5 linked regions of the Homo sapiens genome follow. The protein of the gene in region 1 interacts with the protein of each later gene in a pairwise test. Each region holds a gene or a part of one and is shown on either strand. Other genes may lie near its edges. The genes, in order: TXNDC5, EFEMP1, LHX4, MGAT5B and FLACC1.

Evidence for each region.
Region 2: the proteins of TXNDC5 (region 1) and EFEMP1 interact in a two-hybrid assay, tested with the Homo sapiens proteins (one large-scale study listed by BioGRID).
Region 3: the proteins of TXNDC5 (region 1) and LHX4 interact in a two-hybrid assay, tested with the Homo sapiens proteins (one large-scale study listed by BioGRID).
Region 4: the proteins of TXNDC5 (region 1) and MGAT5B interact in a two-hybrid assay, tested with the Homo sapiens proteins (one large-scale study listed by BioGRID).
Region 5: the proteins of TXNDC5 (region 1) and FLACC1 interact in a two-hybrid assay, tested with the Homo sapiens proteins (one large-scale study listed by BioGRID).

What each region holds. Positions count from the first base shown.
Region 1 is NC_000006.12:7,893,786-7,897,305, forward strand, and holds part of TXNDC5 (thioredoxin domain-containing protein 5 isoform 1 precursor), read right to left. Parts: intron 1,418-3,520; coding exon 1,321-1,417; intron 1-1,320. UniProt on the Homo sapiens protein: Protein disulfide isomerase of the endoplasmic reticulum lumen involved in the formation of disulfide bonds in proteins. Can reduce insulin disulfide bonds.
Region 2 is NC_000002.12:55,868,606-55,871,783, forward strand, and holds part of EFEMP1 (EGF-containing fibulin-like extracellular matrix protein 1 precursor), read right to left. Parts: intron 2,519-3,178; coding exon 2,395-2,518; intron 2,311-2,394; coding exon 2,115-2,310; intron 1-2,114. UniProt on the Homo sapiens protein: Binds EGFR, the EGF receptor, inducing EGFR autophosphorylation and the activation of downstream signaling pathways. May play a role in cell adhesion and migration. May function as a negative regulator of chondrocyte differentiation.
Region 3 is NC_000001.11:180,236,760-180,240,279, reverse strand, and holds part of LHX4 (LIM/homeobox protein Lhx4), read right to left. Parts: intron 1-3,520. UniProt on the Homo sapiens protein: May play a critical role in the development of respiratory control mechanisms and in the normal growth and maturation of the lung. Binds preferentially to methylated DNA.
Region 4 is NC_000017.11:76,874,897-76,878,416, reverse strand, and holds part of MGAT5B (alpha-1,6-mannosylglycoprotein 6-beta-N-acetylglucosaminyltransferase B), read right to left. Parts: intron 1-3,520. UniProt on the Homo sapiens protein: Glycosyltransferase that acts on alpha-linked mannose of N-glycans and O-mannosyl glycans.
Region 5 is NC_000002.12:201,308,834-201,312,353, forward strand, and holds part of FLACC1 (flagellum-associated coiled-coil domain-containing protein 1), read right to left. Parts: intron 418-3,520; coding exon 318-417; intron 1-317.

The sequences.
Region 1 (3,520 bases):
GCACAAGTCACAAGGCCAGAGGCAATCCAAGCCATTTCTCACGTTTCCAACCCAGTCTTCTAAGGGGATTTCTCTCCATGGTAGCATTTGGTAATGGGAGCCGGCCAGGAAGCCAAAATTGCTTTCAAGTCATTCGGTGTTGGGCCAAGTTTTCTGAAACACATCTATGTGTGAATAAAGGGAGACTTATGTATTCACACTGGAAATTTTATGGGGATCATTCTGATATTAGGAGACCATTTGCAAAAAATGGGATGTGGTATAGAAAGATCTTTTAAGTGTAAAGAGTAACTAATTTGATTCATGTTATAACGGTGTCATTAAATTCTGGGTTTTGTTTGGTTGTTTTCTGAGACAGGATCTCACTCTGTCACCCAGGCTGGAGTACAGTGGCATGATCACAGCTCACTGCAGCCTTGACCTTCCAGGCTCAAGTGATCTTCCCACCTCAGCTTCAGGAGTGCGCTTACCATACCCAGCCTTTTTTTTTTTTTTAATCTTCTGTAGAGACAAGGTCTTGCTTAGGCTGATCTCGAACTCCTGGGCTCAAGTAGTCATCCCACCTTGTTCTCCCCAAGTGCTGGGATGATAGGCATGAGCCACTGTGCCCAATCTAAATTCTGTTTAGACAGAGAGAAGCTTTTGTTTCTGCCTGAGGTCATTAAGCATATGATTATCATTAATACACAGGCATACTTCCGAGATACTGTGGGTTTGGTTCCAGACCACTGCAATAAAGATAATATCACAATAAAACAAGTCACACAAATTTTTTGGTTCCCTAGTGAATATCAAAGTTATGTTTACACTATAGTCTATGAAATGTGCTACAGCATTACTTCTTTAAAAACAATGTACCTTAATTAAAAAATATTTTATTGCTAAAAAGATGCTGACAGAGGGATACAAAGTAAGCACAAGCTGCTGGAAAAACCGCTAGACCTGCCAGATGCTGGGCTGCCAAAATCCTCAATCCGTAAAAAAATGCAGTATCTCCAAAGTGCAATAAAGTAAAGAGCAATCAAGCGAGGTGAGTCTGTCAATAAACACTCTTAGCCAAGGATGCACTGTCCAGCTAGTGTGCGGGTCACGTGTGCTTAGCATTAGACTCGGCGTTTCTATAAGGGCACAGACAAAAGGAGAACTCATGTTTTAGAGGAGGTGCACTGAACAACGGTCCCAACAGCTCCTCTAGAGTGACCCTTTGTCAGTGCCACTGATGCTGCTATCTAAGAGCCCTTGAGTAGCAGGAAGGAAAAGCCCAGCACGCCAAGGAATAATAGTGATTCTCTGAAGCTGGCATCAGGACGTCCCCCTTACCTTGTGCAACGTGCAGCTCAAAGTTGCTTGCTGAGAGCTCATACAGCCCTTGCTTGAGCTCGGGGGCACTGGGCGGTTCCACTTCCGGCTCTGGTGTCTAACAGGAGGAAATAAAACAGTCATGGGTGTGTCAGTGGAGACACAGGGAAACCATCCAGGAGGTGACTGTGTCTGTGGGGAACCGCCTGCAGATGCCTCCCTCACCCAACAACCTGGAACCCTTGTACGATGCTGCTGTGCTGAGTGAGGCCAGGTCAGGAACTGATCTCGTCAAGCCCTCTGGAAGCTTCAGCAAAAAGCCCCCTCGTCAGCCTCACCCTCAGTGAAAGCTCTAGGTCTGAGTCTCCAGGGCAGCCAAGTGATAGCTGTCCCTACCCCAAAACCCAACCAAACAAAGCAGACAATGCAAAGGACAGTCTTACCCTATACCCTGTCCTCTTCTTTGAAACGTACTTGGATACTTCACAAAGAATACAAAATACAACGCCCAATGGACGTATTCTGAAGGGGTCAGCACTTGCAGACACCAGAGTGCCCAGCGCAGTGGCTCGTGCCTGTAACCCTAGCATTTTGGGAGGCTGAGGCAAGAGGACTGCTTGAGCCCAGCAGTTCAAGACCAGCCTAGGTGACAGCCTAGCATTTTGGGAGGCTGAGGCAAGAGGACTGCTTGAGCCCAGCAGTTCAAGACCAGCCTAGGCAACAGAGTGAGACCCCATCGCTACAAAAAAAAAATTTTATTTACCTGAGCATGGTGACGTGCGCCTGTGGTCCCAGCTACTTGGGAGGCTGAGGTGGGAGGATCACTTGATCCCAGGGGGTGGAGGCTGCAGTGAGCTGAGAACATGCCACTGCACTCCTGCCTGGGCAACAGAGTGAGACTCTTCCTCAAAAAACACACAAACAGACACGAGGGTAGCAAAATGGACAAAGCTGAGAATGAGAAACTCAGGGACCAGGAAGGCCTGGTTATCCTTACTTTACACAAATGACAGGGAAAACTGTGAGGAAGACACAACTGTGGAAGACTGATCAGAGAGAAAAGGAGGTGATGAGAAGGAAAATGCAGGTGAATGAAAGGCAACAGAGAGAAAACCATGGCATGAACATAAGCTGCACCTTCAAGAAAGAATGTAATTCATATGACTAAGTCTCATACAGAAAGAGGGGGAAAGGGGCTTTTCAAAAGATGCTTCTGCCAGGACCCAAGCAGACAGCAATGTGTGCAGCTGTCTAGTCACAATCCTACATTTCTCAACTTTTCAGACCAGGTACAGCTGTGGCTTCCAACCAAAGTAACCAGAAATGAGGGAAAGATAATGGAATCAGTGTTCTGCTGCAGACACATTAAGTGTATATTACTCAGCTTTTATCTGGGGGTTCATATTCCTATTAAAAAGAATATCCAAGCTAAGTTGTTAAAGGCTTTAAAGGTGCTGACAGTTCAAAGCTGTGCAGGGCTGGAATCATAAAGAACCACAAAGTTTCCCTTCTGCTGCCAGCGCGTCAAGACTTTCAAAGTGCTAAATACCCACACAAAACAATGCCCAAGGGAAGAATGGCTAAGTGAACAGTCAATGGGTGCACATAAGGTGAAATAAAATACCGTGTGCCACTCTCCATGAGATGTTCAAGGGCCTTTCAGTATGAAGTGTTCATTTATGGCACATGCGGGGCCTCTAGTTGCTTCCTGGGTTCCTGGCAGACTCCAGAGCAGTCCCCCGGCATGGGAACACCACAGTGCATCCCAGAAACAGGTCACGTCTTGCCCTACAGTGGCAGCATAAGCTGATATGGTGCTTAAGAAACCTGGCTATATTCATCAAGAGCCATAAAAATGATCTTTTTTTTTATTCTTGGCCTTATAATTTTATGTCTGGGAATACTATATTCTAAAAATATCACTCAAAAGAAGGGGGGGTGGAAAGTCCTTTACAAAGATAAACTTGTTCCCTACATCATTACTGATGATGGAAAAGGTATAAATAACCTAAATATCCACTGACAGAATTAGAGTTGAATTATGGCAAATCCACATGATAAAATAATATAAGACATGATCAACATAAAGACCACATAAATATATAAAATCATTAATGAGATGAAACATGTTTGTATAACTGTTCAAGAAAAAATACAGAAGCAAACATGGAAATACAAAAATTGCAGTAGAATGTACAAAGTGACAAATTGTCTTTTGAGT
Region 2 (3,178 bases), on another chromosome or scaffold:
GCTGACTCATGACTATCAAGAAACCTTCTTTGACAGCCCACATTGATTTTTTGATGTATCTGGACCATGGAATTAAGCACAAAATTGCCCCACTTCTATTTTCATAGATGTTAACTTTTTCTACACAATAATATTTAAAGCTCCTTGAAATCAGAAAATGTGCATTACATGTCCTTTTAATTCCTCATGACACCTAGCATAGAGCTGAGCATGTAGTAGGTGCTTAATTAACCGAATTAATTAACCTAACTAACCTGCTGTTGATTTTCATGCGTTTCAATGCCCTCTGCACAAGTAGAATTTTAGTGGAGAAACTCTGTAGGATTTGATCCAAGTACTTTTTGAATTATGTGATAAGAAATAGTCTTGAAATGTCTATTTTTATTATTTTAAATAATTTTCTTTCAAATAATTTAACATTAACTCTGGAAATATCAAAATTGGCAATGTTTTCTATCAGTCATGAGAATAAGGATTTCACTGGAGAAAAACACTGTATTTTGATTTGAAAATATGAAGTCGGTAAGTGCACTGATATGAATAATAAATAACTGTAAAAGTGCCATGTTTAATTGCAAAGAAAAAACATGTTGGAACTTTGTTTCACTCTTTGATTATTCTGCTAGAAAATTTTATTTTCTTACATTATGGCTAAAAGTTCAAAATAGAAAATTATTTTTAAAGATTTTGTTATTTAAAAATAATGTTATTTGTTTAGGCTAGAATTAGTTAATTGGTAGTATCTGAATTGTGTAAAATTCATTCAGTGGAAATTTCTTACAAATATCAAGAATATGTCAAATTTAAAATATCAAATGTTAAAGAACTATAATATATTCTTTTTTATTCAAAAAAATAATTGTAATAGATTGCATTTTGCATTGGGTCTTTCTTTTCAGAAGTTGGTCATGAGAAATTAATCATTTTCTAATATACTGGCAAAGAAATAATATCACATAACTCTGGAGCTATATGGGAAATTAATATATCAAAAAACAGGATAAATGGGTAAACATTAAAAATCTGTAAACTGTACCACAAGGATGAATTTCCCAATTTAATTCATATTCTCAAAATGAAATATTGGCTTTAAAATTTGATTAAAAATAAAGAGTGCCCAAAGGAGTTTTGAGAAAATTGTAACTGGATGAATAACATCATTAGCATGAAACAGTTACCGTAACTCTGCAAACTGCTTGGTAGGGTGCCATCATTTTCACATGAAGTGGTGAGCCGTATTTAAAATATGTCCAAATTTTAACCTAAAATGAACTTGCTGAGATTTTGTAGGGAGACTGGAAGGCTGAGGCTTTGGGGTCAGGGAGACCAGCTCAGAAGCCACTGAAGGGATCATGGAAGTGACGGGAGCCAGTTTATAGGAAGAGAGATAGGGATGTGAGGAAGCAAAGATAACCCAGGAGACAGTGTGAAGAGGGAAATGGCAGAATTCAGAAAGTAGATTTCACACAGGCAATGAAAGATAGGGAGATGACTCCATACTGCCAGCCCAGAAGTTGGCAAGAATGGTACAACTACTGACACATACTGTGCGGGGAGGTGGGGTCACTTCTCACATACTTATAGGTTTTAGTTTCGGTGTGAACACAAACTGTCTTGTGAATGTAACAATGATGAATTCATGATGTCTGAAAAACTCTTTAGGAGCTCCAGGAATTATTTTGGGTTTGAATTATATGTATGTCTATGTATAATTAATTAACCATCAATGATTAGTGATACCTACTTGGGGGGTATGTTGGGTGGGGGCAGAGGCGGGGGGATGGGAGGCTTGTATTTTCGTGGTCACACACAACTCTATCAGAGTCTGCCAAACTTAATATTTGAGTGATTTCAGGGATGCTACTTAATCTTTCTGCATCTCACTTTTCTCCTCTGTAAAAAATGGAGATGAATATTAATATCTATCTGGCAGTGTTACCAAGAGGAATAAATGAAATAATGTAGCTGGAAGGCCTTACACAATGCCTACACATAAGACACTTTAAATGTTTGCTTTCCTTCCACATGTGGATACCACACAACAACAACAACAACAACAACAACAACAAACTCCCATCTTTCTCAATAGTTAAGGCTGCCTTCAGGATACTTACTCGTAGGTAGAACTCTCCATTTTCATTTCCAGATTTAATCCGAAAAGTATTGATGGTGTTGGCATAAATAGTTGTGGCCTGTATCTGGAAGATGTCTGATGGCACAGACCTATCAGATCGGATGCTCATGTATTTGTAGACTATTGACTGGGGCAGTTCTCGGCACATGGCATTTGAGACTGGGCAAACACATCGGCTGCAGAGACAAACAAAAGTATTCAGCAGTTTGGCTTGGTAAGACCAGAAAATCCTCACTTTCAAAAGTTCTGATTTTTCTTACTTCTCTGGTGTTAGAATGTAGGGATCTTGACAAGGATTTCGTGGATAACAACGGAAGCCGCCATGATAATTCCAACACATTTCATCCTCCCGGCATTCATTTGTGGTCTCACACTCATTTATATCTGTAGAGATGTAGGGTCAAAGAGTTTACTAACTAAACTAATGAACTGATCTAATTAAATCATATAACTGGCAGATTCTGTTTGCAAGGAAGGAGGTGTGAGAGCATCTGGACTGTGTTCAACCTGCTTTTAGACACAAGACTGGGTGTTCATTGTATTGAATTCAGGACAGACAGAGCTGAGACATTCTAGGCAGATTAATATGTGTCATTTCATGATATTTTATCAAGCACCTATTGTTCATCTGTTGAATTCAAACCCCAATGTTAACCACTGACTCTGCCTATATAAAAGTTAAACACCAGTTCTTGTCATCAGGGACATTATAATTGAGGGAATGTGTATATGATTACTTAGAAAGTAAAATGGAATTAAGTAAGAGATAGATAAGTATACTGGGGCATGTGGAGCAGAGTTGGGTAATTTTGCCAGGGGGATTAGGGAAGGCTGAAGGAAGGAAGAGGCATCTCAACGTGGCCTTGAAGGGTGGTGGTTAGATGGAGTTTTCATGGCTGGGGCAGGGAAGGCTTTCCAAGCTGAGAAATCAGGAAGCATAAACTATGGAGGGCAGCTTATCATCTCTTTCAGGAACTTGGGAGAAAGGTAAAGGCTAGAAATCTGGTTTCAGTAAGCTGAAGCATGCTGGGAGTGGATTATACT
Region 3 (3,520 bases), on another chromosome or scaffold:
AGAGGATTACTTGAACCCAGAAGTTCGAGACCAGTCTGGGCAACATAGTGAGCCCCTACCTCTATTATAATAATTTTAAAAGGGAATAATGTTTATTTAACGATGCTCTGAGACCAGATTAATATTTTGTAAAGTTTGTACTTTGATGTGCCAGCTTGATGTGCCTCCTGTGAGGCTTTTGCTTTTTAACTCCCTTTGCTTTTTAACTGCCTTCTGGATGAAGTGTTCTTTTTGTTTCATGCTTTGACTTGACAGCCTAATGCTCAGGACAAGGTTTTTCTTGCTCCTTTCGAGAAAAGGAGCTGGGTCCATGGGAGCCACTTCCGGGTCTCCCTGTTTGCAGACCCCACAGTATTCCCCCTCAGGTGGCCATCCTCTTGGGACAGCCAGCAGTGCTCCCAGGGGCGGCTGTGTCTGTGAAATGGGAGCTGTGATCCCAGTCTCTGAGTGCCTTAAGACCACCAGCACTCCAAACTTGGTCAAGTACTTTCAAATTGGCAAGCTCATTCCCTCCTCCCAGACACCCTGTGAAGCGGACATTCATTGTCTACGTTTAAAAGGTTCTGAGAATAAGGGGCTTCCCTACGGGTACACAGTTTGAGGCCGAATTAGGACTAAACCTTCTTTTACTCTGGGTCTGATGGCTTCCACCTGTGCTCAATCAAAGCCACCTCCATCTGGGATTTTTGCCCAAAACCTTTTTGCTGGTGATTTCCCTCCAGAAGTAAGCAGTTTTTTGAGCTCTGTCTCAAATAACATTTGGCCAATATGTATTTCCAAAAACGTTTAATTTTATTTATTTGTTAAGTTTCTTTACTGACTACTAACTGAAAGGAGACGCCAAATGGGGCTTTAAGGAATCACATATGCAACTGAAATAGTATGCAAATGTTTTTCTTGAAATTTTCCATTCCTTTCCCACATGTAAGGAAGAGAAAACAACAAATTGCAGACATTGCTGTTCTGTTGCCTCAGGTTCCCTGAGTAAGAAAGAAGGAAGATGGTTTTCTAAAGGCAGGCTTGGGAAATACTGTCAGTGGGGGGCTCATTGATTTAGTCGGGGAATAACTAATTCTAAAATGCATCAACAAGGTGAAGCTACAGGATATACCAAGCTGTGGCACACCTGCCTAAACACATACCTGAGTTCTGAAATGTCCAGGTCAAAGATTTATAACGGAGGTATAGTTACATTAAAATTAAATTAACTAAGAGGTCTATTACTGGATAAATATTTCAAAAATAAAACTTTCCATTTCAAAGTAGCCACCATCACCGCTGATGATAAAATCCTGTTTTCTGGTCACAATTCCCCTTTTAAATCACCTGGTAATTGTGACCAAAGGAAGAAGGCCTGATTCATCCATGCAGTCCCCACGCAGGGAAAACCTGAGGCCCACGACTCAGTTTTCCATGACAAATCTGGTGTGTGCCGCCCCCCAACCCTGGCTCTTTGTCATTAAAGAACATTCATTTTTGTTGAACCGTTTATAGTTCTCGTTTTTATATTTTCACTTATTCTAAATCAGCGTATCTTGAAGAGACAATAACAGAATTTTCCAAAATGTTTTTATAAAATTCCTCTTAAGGGATTTTCACAACCTAGTAATAATCACATAACACAGCTAAAGCACAAAATTCCAACATTAATTCTTTAAAACATAAAGAGAAAAGGCACATTGAACATCAATGATGACAGCAGCATTAAAGAAAGAGAGCTGGGCCAGCCACAAAAATATTAGAAAAATTCTAATTTTAAAAATTAGCATCGCATTGAAGGTAAATCATATTCTCTATCATCATATGCACTGACATGTTTTAAAATGCATCAGTGTACTCACGTCTTTTTATCTAATTTCTAGTTTTTTCTAGTTTGTCTTGACAAATGACTAGCAACCAGAAAAAAAGTCAGAAAATCCTTCTTACATCAGAAATGATCACACCTGAAGCTGTCCTTTCCCTTCACTTGCTTTCCGGAATCCTTCCCACTTTTACTGTTTGCTTTATTTGGTGGCTTGGGGTGCCTTTGAAAATCTCCTTTGTTCTTTTTCGGCTTAGTCAAAAATAGAAACCTCTTCAATAAAAGAACAAATTCAAAAGTAAACTGGAGATAATTTCGATGTTATCATTTTAAGGCTGTAATTTGGATATTTTAACATAAGGAGTCGAGTAACAAATGAAATACACAATGTAAATATGTATTTGCAGGGATTATCTCCTAGGTGATATATTGTCACGTAATTAGTATTCTTCAGTAGGATATCATATATCTCAGTAATTGCAAATAAAACAGAAAATTACATTAAGCAAATCCATGTTTGTGTATGGAAATGTTGTAGACACGTCTATTTCCACTCCATTTTCACATTTAATCATTGCTAAATCTCTACAATGTATTTTTCTAATGTCTCACTCTGTAACAGTATTCCATATGTTTGGCAATCTTTCCCTCATAGCAAGAAACTTTCAATTAATTTGGCTGCAAGTTTTGTCTCTATTAAGCTATTCCCAGAACCAATCTCTTAACCCCCTAACATCATAATTAAAGCAAATTATACTTTAAAGACATGTGGGGGTGAGGTACTGCAGTTAAACATCTGTGGCTAGACCCAGACTGACAGAGGGAACAGGGTGGGGAGATCTGAGAAAAGAAATCCACCAAAATTACAGCAGGAGGTAGGACTCACCTCCCAAGACGACTTTCCAGTCAGCCGCTCATACAGTTAACCCCAAAGTCCATTTTCCAAGGGAGAATCCATTTCATTTTCACCAATTAAACCCAACCTGTCCACCTACCCCCAAAAGCAATGCCTCAAAATGGTTGACTTGTGCTCCATTTTGATCAGGGATCCTATAAAATTGAGGACTAAATAAGGTAAAACCTCACAGTGGCATCTAATTTTAGTTGATTTCTTCCTACCACAGACAATAAGAGCCCAGCTCCAGGGCGGCTTCTGTCCTATACCCAGCACCTGTGCTTCCCTCCCAGGGCGCCTAGAAAGAGAGATGGCTCCACCACGGTGCAGCCTGCTGGACACACGACCGCCCTCCTCCCCGCCCCCCCCGCCGAGTAAAACCCCTGTGTCGTGAATTCCTGCACTATCCCATGTTTCTCCCTGCAAAGATTTTGCAAAGGAAGGAAGGGATAGACAGAAGAAATTGGGGGAACAGGGGAAGGAGAAGGAGGGAGGAAGAAAGAGAAATTCAAGCCACCAGACCGCGATGGAATTTTACTAAAAGCAGTGGACCCTATTTGCCCACATCTCTGTTATGGGCATTGTTAACACTCATTCCAGGAAGGGAGAAAGGCAAAACATTGTTACAAAAGTAAAATCGCCTCAACGGCACCCCAGCCAGCCCTCTCCAAATTCAGCCGTCTATGCAGCCATGTATTTGGTGCTGCCACAGCAAACTGCTGCTTCAGTCTGTCTCCAACCGTGGGTTTCTCAAAGTGGGTAATATTACTCCTTTTGTCCTCTCTTCAGCTAAACTGGTTCCAAGTCCCTATGCGTCCCAAAGC
Region 4 (3,520 bases), on another chromosome or scaffold:
GCGGAACCAGATGCCCCTTCTGTAGTTCTTCAAGCCCCACCCCATCAGACTGGACCAAGTCCCCCCGTGCCAGGGGCTCAGGAGCTGCTCCCATCTTCTGCAGATGGCATGGAACTCCAGAAACCCCTGAGACCTGGGGAGACAGCCCCTACCCCTTCCCAATGAGCCCTCGGGGTACCAGGCACATTTTGTGCTCTGGAAATGCCCAAAGACTAGGCAGGGGGTGGGTACCCAGGAGGGAAGCAGGTCAGGCCGACTCTCCCCCAGTGACCCACTCCCCTAAAAGCCACCACTGGCCCCGGGACTGTCAGCAGAGCAAGCTGACATCGCTTCCCCAGAGTCACTTCACCACTCTTGGCATCAGCTAAATTGAAATATATCTAATGTGAGGCCCCAGTGATACAACTCAGAACAGGCACACGTTCCCTCCATATTTCCATATAAATAAGGAAAGCTGGGACGCTGGGAGATACAAATAGATCCTCTCATTTACAGACGGGATGTGTTTATTACCCACCGAGGCCCCGTCTCCTCCCCAGACGCTCTTCGTCTCTCTCTGTCTCTCTCATCCTCCTTCGTCCCCCTTTTCTTGTCCCCATCCCCACCCTTTACCATTGGAAATTGAATGAGCCCCCATCTCTCCAGAAAGCAGAGACCTCCCTGGCACTGAGAAGGGAACTGTGACTGGGTGTTCGTGCAGCTGGAGAAATGCGCACATTTATCTCTCTGTACTCGCTCACCGCAGAAACCAGCTGAGGCCACGGGAGCTCTGGGCTCCGGGCAGCAGAGAAGACAAGGACAGGCCGTGGGAGGCCACACCAGGCTCTTCCTCAGACCTCCGGGCCCCGGTCCCCCATCCATCAAGCCTGAGAGAAGAGCCCCAGGGCCCCTTAGTACCAAGGGCCAGAGCCAGAGCCAGAGCCATCCACAGAGCCAGGTAGCCTTCCCCAGGTTCAATCCCTGGTGGAGGCCTGGGAGGTCTGGCAGGGCCCAGTAGACACATGCAGCTGTGCCATGGACCTTCAGCCTACAGACCCCTCCCAAAAGATAGCCTCCTACCACTACTTTTTTTTTTTTTTTTTTTTTTAAGCCGAGACAGAGTCTTGCTCTGTCACCCAGGCTGGAGTGCAGTGGCGCAATCTCAGTTCACTGCAACCTCCTCCTCCCTGGTTCAAGCAATTCTCCTGCCTCAGCCTCCCGAGGAGCTGAGATGACAGCACGTGCCACCACACCCTGCTAATTTTTGTATTTTTAGTAGAGATGGGGTTTCACCACGCTGGCCAGGCTGGTCTCGAACTCCTGACCTCAGGTGATCCACCTGCCTCAGCCTCCCAAAGTGTTGGGATTACAGGCGTGAGCCACCACACCCAGCCTCCTACCACTGCTTCTTCAAGACAAGTCAGAGGGCAGGAAACAGCCTCACAGCACTATCTGCAGCCACATGGGGAAGGAGGCCTAGGCGAGAAGGGCTGGAAGGGCAGGAAACAGGAGGAGGACCTGGGGTGGGAAGTGGGGCAGAGCTGCCTGGGAGGGGGCAATGCCGGAAAGCCCTCCCCAGAGCCCAGGCCCAGCCCAAATGCAGCAAGAGGGAAAGAAGTCAGATCTCCTCCGGGTCATGATTCCCCATGCAGCCTCCTCTCTTGAATCTTTAAGATGAGTGTGCAGAATACAGAATGAGATGTCAGTCACATTTCATCCCCAAAGTACGCAGTTTATCATGAAGTATAAACAGGCACAGAGGAGAATTTGGAGGCCCCACACATAGACCACAGTCCACAAGAGGCTGAATGACGCCCTCCTCTTCTTTTCGAGAAAAGCCTTCTCCTCCCTCTCCCTTCGCAGCCACAGTCCATGTGGGACCCCACTTCTGTCACCGGTTTGACAGGGGAGGAGAGATTGTTTTTCCCATTTGTACACAGATTGTTTTGTTGACCAATGCAATTTTTTTTTTTTTTTTCTAAATAGCAGGGCCTTAGAGGGTTTCCTTCTCCTGATTCTGCTCTGGGGTTGTCTAGACTCCGCAGATTTCTTTTGGGTAACAAAACGTGCATTATCCAACAATCCAACCTTGGCCCAGGACTTCCAAGATCCCTCCCCAGGCCTGATTCAGCCAAGCAATTTGCCAAGCACCTCCCCGTGAAGCCCTAATCCTTCCCTCAGGCATCTCCTAAGTGGAAATGCTGGTACCTCCTAGGTTTTCTGCAGGGCTGCCCCAGGCACTGCGTGGGGATGTAGTTTGAGGGGCTTCTCTTGCAGGATCAGGATGTTAAACCCACATTGCACACTGCTTTCCCGGCCTGAGTCCCTGCCTTGGGTCTGCCCAAGCAGATTAGCTTGATCCAAGGGTATGAAAGAAATCATGGAGGACAATGCGAGTCGGGATCTAAAGTGAATCAGGGTCAGCTCTCCTGGGTTCTCAGCGGCCCTTTTCTTGTCTGTCTCCTCCTTCTCCCGGACTTCAGTTCTGTATTCCAGGCACTCAGCTTCTGAGGCCTGGGAAATGTGAAAAGACTGGCTTGGATAAACTTGGTCTGAGAACTAATGTTACAACACGTAGAATCTCCACTCCTAGGTATACCCAACAGAAATGCCTACGTATGTTTACCAAAAGACGTGCACTGAAATATTCATAGCAGCACTGTTCGCAAAAGCCCAAAACTGGAAACGACCAAATGCCCACCAATGGTCGGATGGATAAAAATATGGTGGTGTACTCACACAATGGAAGGCTACACAGCAAAAAAAAAAAAAAAAAAAAAAAAAGTGCAAGTGACTACAACCGCATACAAGATAGTGAGTCTCACACATGTACTACTGAGAGAAAAGACACACACAAAAGACTACTCCTCTATTAGTTCATTCTCAACGTTGCTACTAAAGACATACCTGAGACTGGGTAATTTATAGATGAAAAAGGTTGAATTGACTCAGAGTCCAGCATGGCTGGGGAGGCCTCAGGAAACTTACAATCATGGTGGAAGGGGAAGCAAACATGTCCTTCTTCACATGGCAGCAGGAAGGGGAAGTACCGAGCAAAAGGGAAAAAGCCCCTTATAAAACCATCAGATCTTGTGGGAACTCACTGACCATCACAAGAACAGCACCAAGGTAAACCACCCCCATGAATCAATTACCTCCCACAGGGTCTATCCCACAAGAGGTGGAGATTATGGGAACTACGATTCAAGATGAGATTTGGGTGGGGATACAGCCAAACCATATCAACTCCTGAAACGATTCCATGCTCACAAAGTCCAAAAAACAGGCAGAACTCTTCTATGTGATCAGAAGTCAAGTCGTGACTATCCTTGGGTGAGTAATGACTGTGAAGTGGCATGGGGACACTTGGGGACTGATCACGTTCTGGTCCTTGCTCTGGGTTGTTAGTTGCATGGATTGTTCATTTGTGTATATGATACCCCATTAAAAAGTTTAAGACCACGTACACGCACACACACATGCACACACATGCACATGTACACACGAATGCACACACACCTCTAGTCCAATTGTATGACCT
Region 5 (3,520 bases), on another chromosome or scaffold:
GTTTCTAGATAATAAGTCTGCACTCCCTACAGGGATTCTAACATTTGTTCCAGCCATCATGGGCAAACTTGGACCAAATGAGTTTCAGAAGGTACAGGCTTAGACTCTCTTAGATCAGATGCCTGAACTTCAAAAAAGACCCTACCCTTGTTGTCATTTTGCTTTCATGAAAACTCTGGGCACCTTCCATTCAGGTATCTAGCATGTGGCCCATCACCCTTGGTAAGCCCAAGGCCACCTTCCTCAAGTCAAGACCAAACTTCATGGCAGTTTTTTAATGCACTTGTCATCAAAAAAGCTAGAGTTTCTGTACTCACTTTGCTGTAGCAGGATATTTTCTCGCTCGAACTTCTCATCCTTCTTCCATTTCGCCTTCTGTTTTGACCACTTCTCTTCCATTTCATCATAAATACTGTCCTGGGGAGGTACAAAGGCACCATGAAGAAAAGAGTCCTAAAATGAAGGTGACCTGGAGAGGCTGTAAAACTCAACTCAGGGAGGACTCCTCTTGGCATTGCACAGTGGCCAGGGCCCATCACCATGTTCTGTGCATCTTCCCTTACCTGGGGCCCTCACTGAGTGGGTCCTCCATGGGTGACTGGTGAGAAGTAAATTCCAGCCCAGCCCAACAGAGAGCTTATGGAACCCAAAGGTCAAGGGCAAACTATGCACAGTGTTTGCCCCACTAGAACTGAGCTTCCTTTGAAGAAAGGTAGAGTTCTCCATGTTGAAGGATCATATGTTAGCTCCCCCTAAATCACAAATCCCTCTTCAATAGCACAAGAAGAAAGGAGGCCGGGCGCAGTGGCTCACACCTGTAATCCCAGCACTTTGGGAGGTGGAGGCAGGCAGATCACAAGGTCAAGAGGTCAAGACCATCCTGGCCAACATGGTGAAACCCCATCTCTACTAAAAATACAAAAATTAGCTGGGCGTGGTGGCACACACCTGTAGTCCCAGCTACTTGGGAGGCTGAGGCAGGAGACTCGCTTGAACCTAGAAGGCAGAGGTTGCAGTGAGCCGAGATCACGCCACTGCACTCCAGCCTGGTGACAGAGTGAGACTCTGTCTCAAAAAAAAAAAAAAAAAAAAAAGAAGAAGAAAGGAAATACCTAGTAGTTAATTTGAACACTTAGAAAATAAGGGGATGTTTTTCAGAGAATGTCCACTTTTTCTCAGCAAATCTAACTTTCTTTTGTGGTTGAGGTTAAATAAGCCTAATCTAATACCAATACTGTTGCTTGGCTCAGATTTCATGAACATGGAATCCTAGGAGGGGGAAGGCCCTGGACCTGGATGACACTAGTAGGGTCCAAGGACGCTGACTGCCTTATTTTTCAGGTTAGCAGAAGGATTCACACCCGACCTATTCTATTTACCACTCACACGTCTTAGGCTCTGTTCTATGATGTTTTCCCTGAATATACCAAGGAGTATCTTAAAAAAATGAGTTTTAGACACAGGCTCAAAACTGAAATTGTAAGTGGTAAATAGAACTTTAGAGGTGGTACTGGTGTTTAACTTTTGATAGAGCGACCAAGTGTCCTTGTCTGCCTGACACTTAGGGGTTTCCTGGGACTCTGGACTCTCAGTGCTAAAACCTGGAAAGTCTCAGGCCAACTAGAACTAGTTGGTCACTATACTTCACAATTAAACAGGATGAAGGCTTGAGGCTTCAGTCCTTTCCCGCCCCACTAGCCATCTCTTAACTCTCTTCATCTACCTAGTAAGAATCATGCCCTAACTTTGTTTTCCTGGGCCTTCATCAAATGAGCTGATTAAATGGATGGGTTTTATTCTGAGATGACGGGAGCACTCCATGCTTTGCTTGTGGCAGTGCAGAGTGATACATTCTTTTTGGATGGCAATTTGGCCATATATATTAAAGGCCTTAAAAATGTTCATTCCAAAACAAGAACTAACCCCAAAGCTAGGAGAAGAAAAGAAATAACTAAAATCAGAACAGAACTGAATGGAATCAAAATTCAAAAACCCATACAAAGAATCAATGAAACAAAAAGTTGGATCTTTGAAAGGAAATGCAAGACCGATAGAGTGCTAGCTACATTAGCAAAGAAAAAAACGACGATCCAAATAAGCACATTTAGAAAGGACAAAGGTGACATTACAACTAATCCCACAGAAATATAAAAGAACCTCAGAGATCATTATGAACATCTGTATGCATACAAACAAGAAAATCTAGAGGAAATGGATAAATTCCTGGAAACACAACCTCCAAAGATTGAATCAAGAAGCAATTGAAACCCCAAATAGACAATATTGAGTTTTGAAATTGATTCAGTAATAAAATAATCTAACACTAAAAAAAAAAAAAAATCCTGGGACCAGAAAGATTCACAGCCAAATTCTACCAAAAGTACAGAGAAGAACTGGTACCAATTCTACTGAAACTATTCCAAAAAAATGAGGAGGAGGGACTCCTCCCTAACTTATTCTATGAAGCTGGCATTATCCTTATACCAAAACCTGGCAAAGACAAAAAAGAAACTACAGGCCAATATCCCTATGAACATAGACTGAAAAAAATGCTCAACAAAATACTTGCAAATTGAATCCAGCTACACATGAAAAAGTTAATTCATGGCCAGGCACGGTGGCTCATACCTGTTATCCCAGCACTATGGGAGGTTGAGTCAGGAGAATTGCTTGAGCCCAGGAGTTTAAGCAACATGATATGAGACCCCACATCTACAGAAAAAATAAAAAATTAGCTAGGTGTAGTGGTCCCAGCTATTTAGGAGGCTGAGGTGTGAGGATCACTCCAGCCCAGGAGGTTGAGGCTTCAATGAGCTGTGATTGTGCTGCTGCACTCCAGCCCAGGTGACAGAATGAGACACTGACTCAAAAAAAAAAAAAAAAAAGTTAATTCACCATGATCAAGTAGGCTTCATTCTCACAATGCAAGGTTGGTTCAACATACGTGAATCCATAAATGTGATTCACCACATAAACAGAATTAGAAAGAAAACCCATATGATCATCTCAATAGACATGGAAAAAGCCTTTGATAAAATCCAACATCCCTTCATGATAAAAACTCTCAGCAAATTAGGTTATCAAAGGAACTTACTTCAAAATAATAAGAGCCATCTATGACAAACCCACAGCCAAAATCCTACTGAATGGGCAAAAGCTGGAAGCATTACCCTTGAGAACTAGCACAAGACAAGGATGCCCACTCTCACCTCTCTTATTCAACATAGCACTGGAAGTACTAGCCAGAGCCATTAGGCAAGAGAAAGAAATAAAAGGCATCCAAATAGGAAAAGAAGAAGTCAAATTTTTCTGTTCACTGATAACATAATTGCATACCTAGAAAACTTTAAAGAATCTGCCAAAAGGCTCCTGGAACTGATAAACAAGTTCAGTAAAGTTTCAGGATACAAAATCAATGTACAAAAAATAAGTAGCATTTCTATACACCAATAATGTCCAAGGTGAGAGCCAAATCAATAACGTAATCCCATTCACTATAGACACAAAAAGAATAAAATCC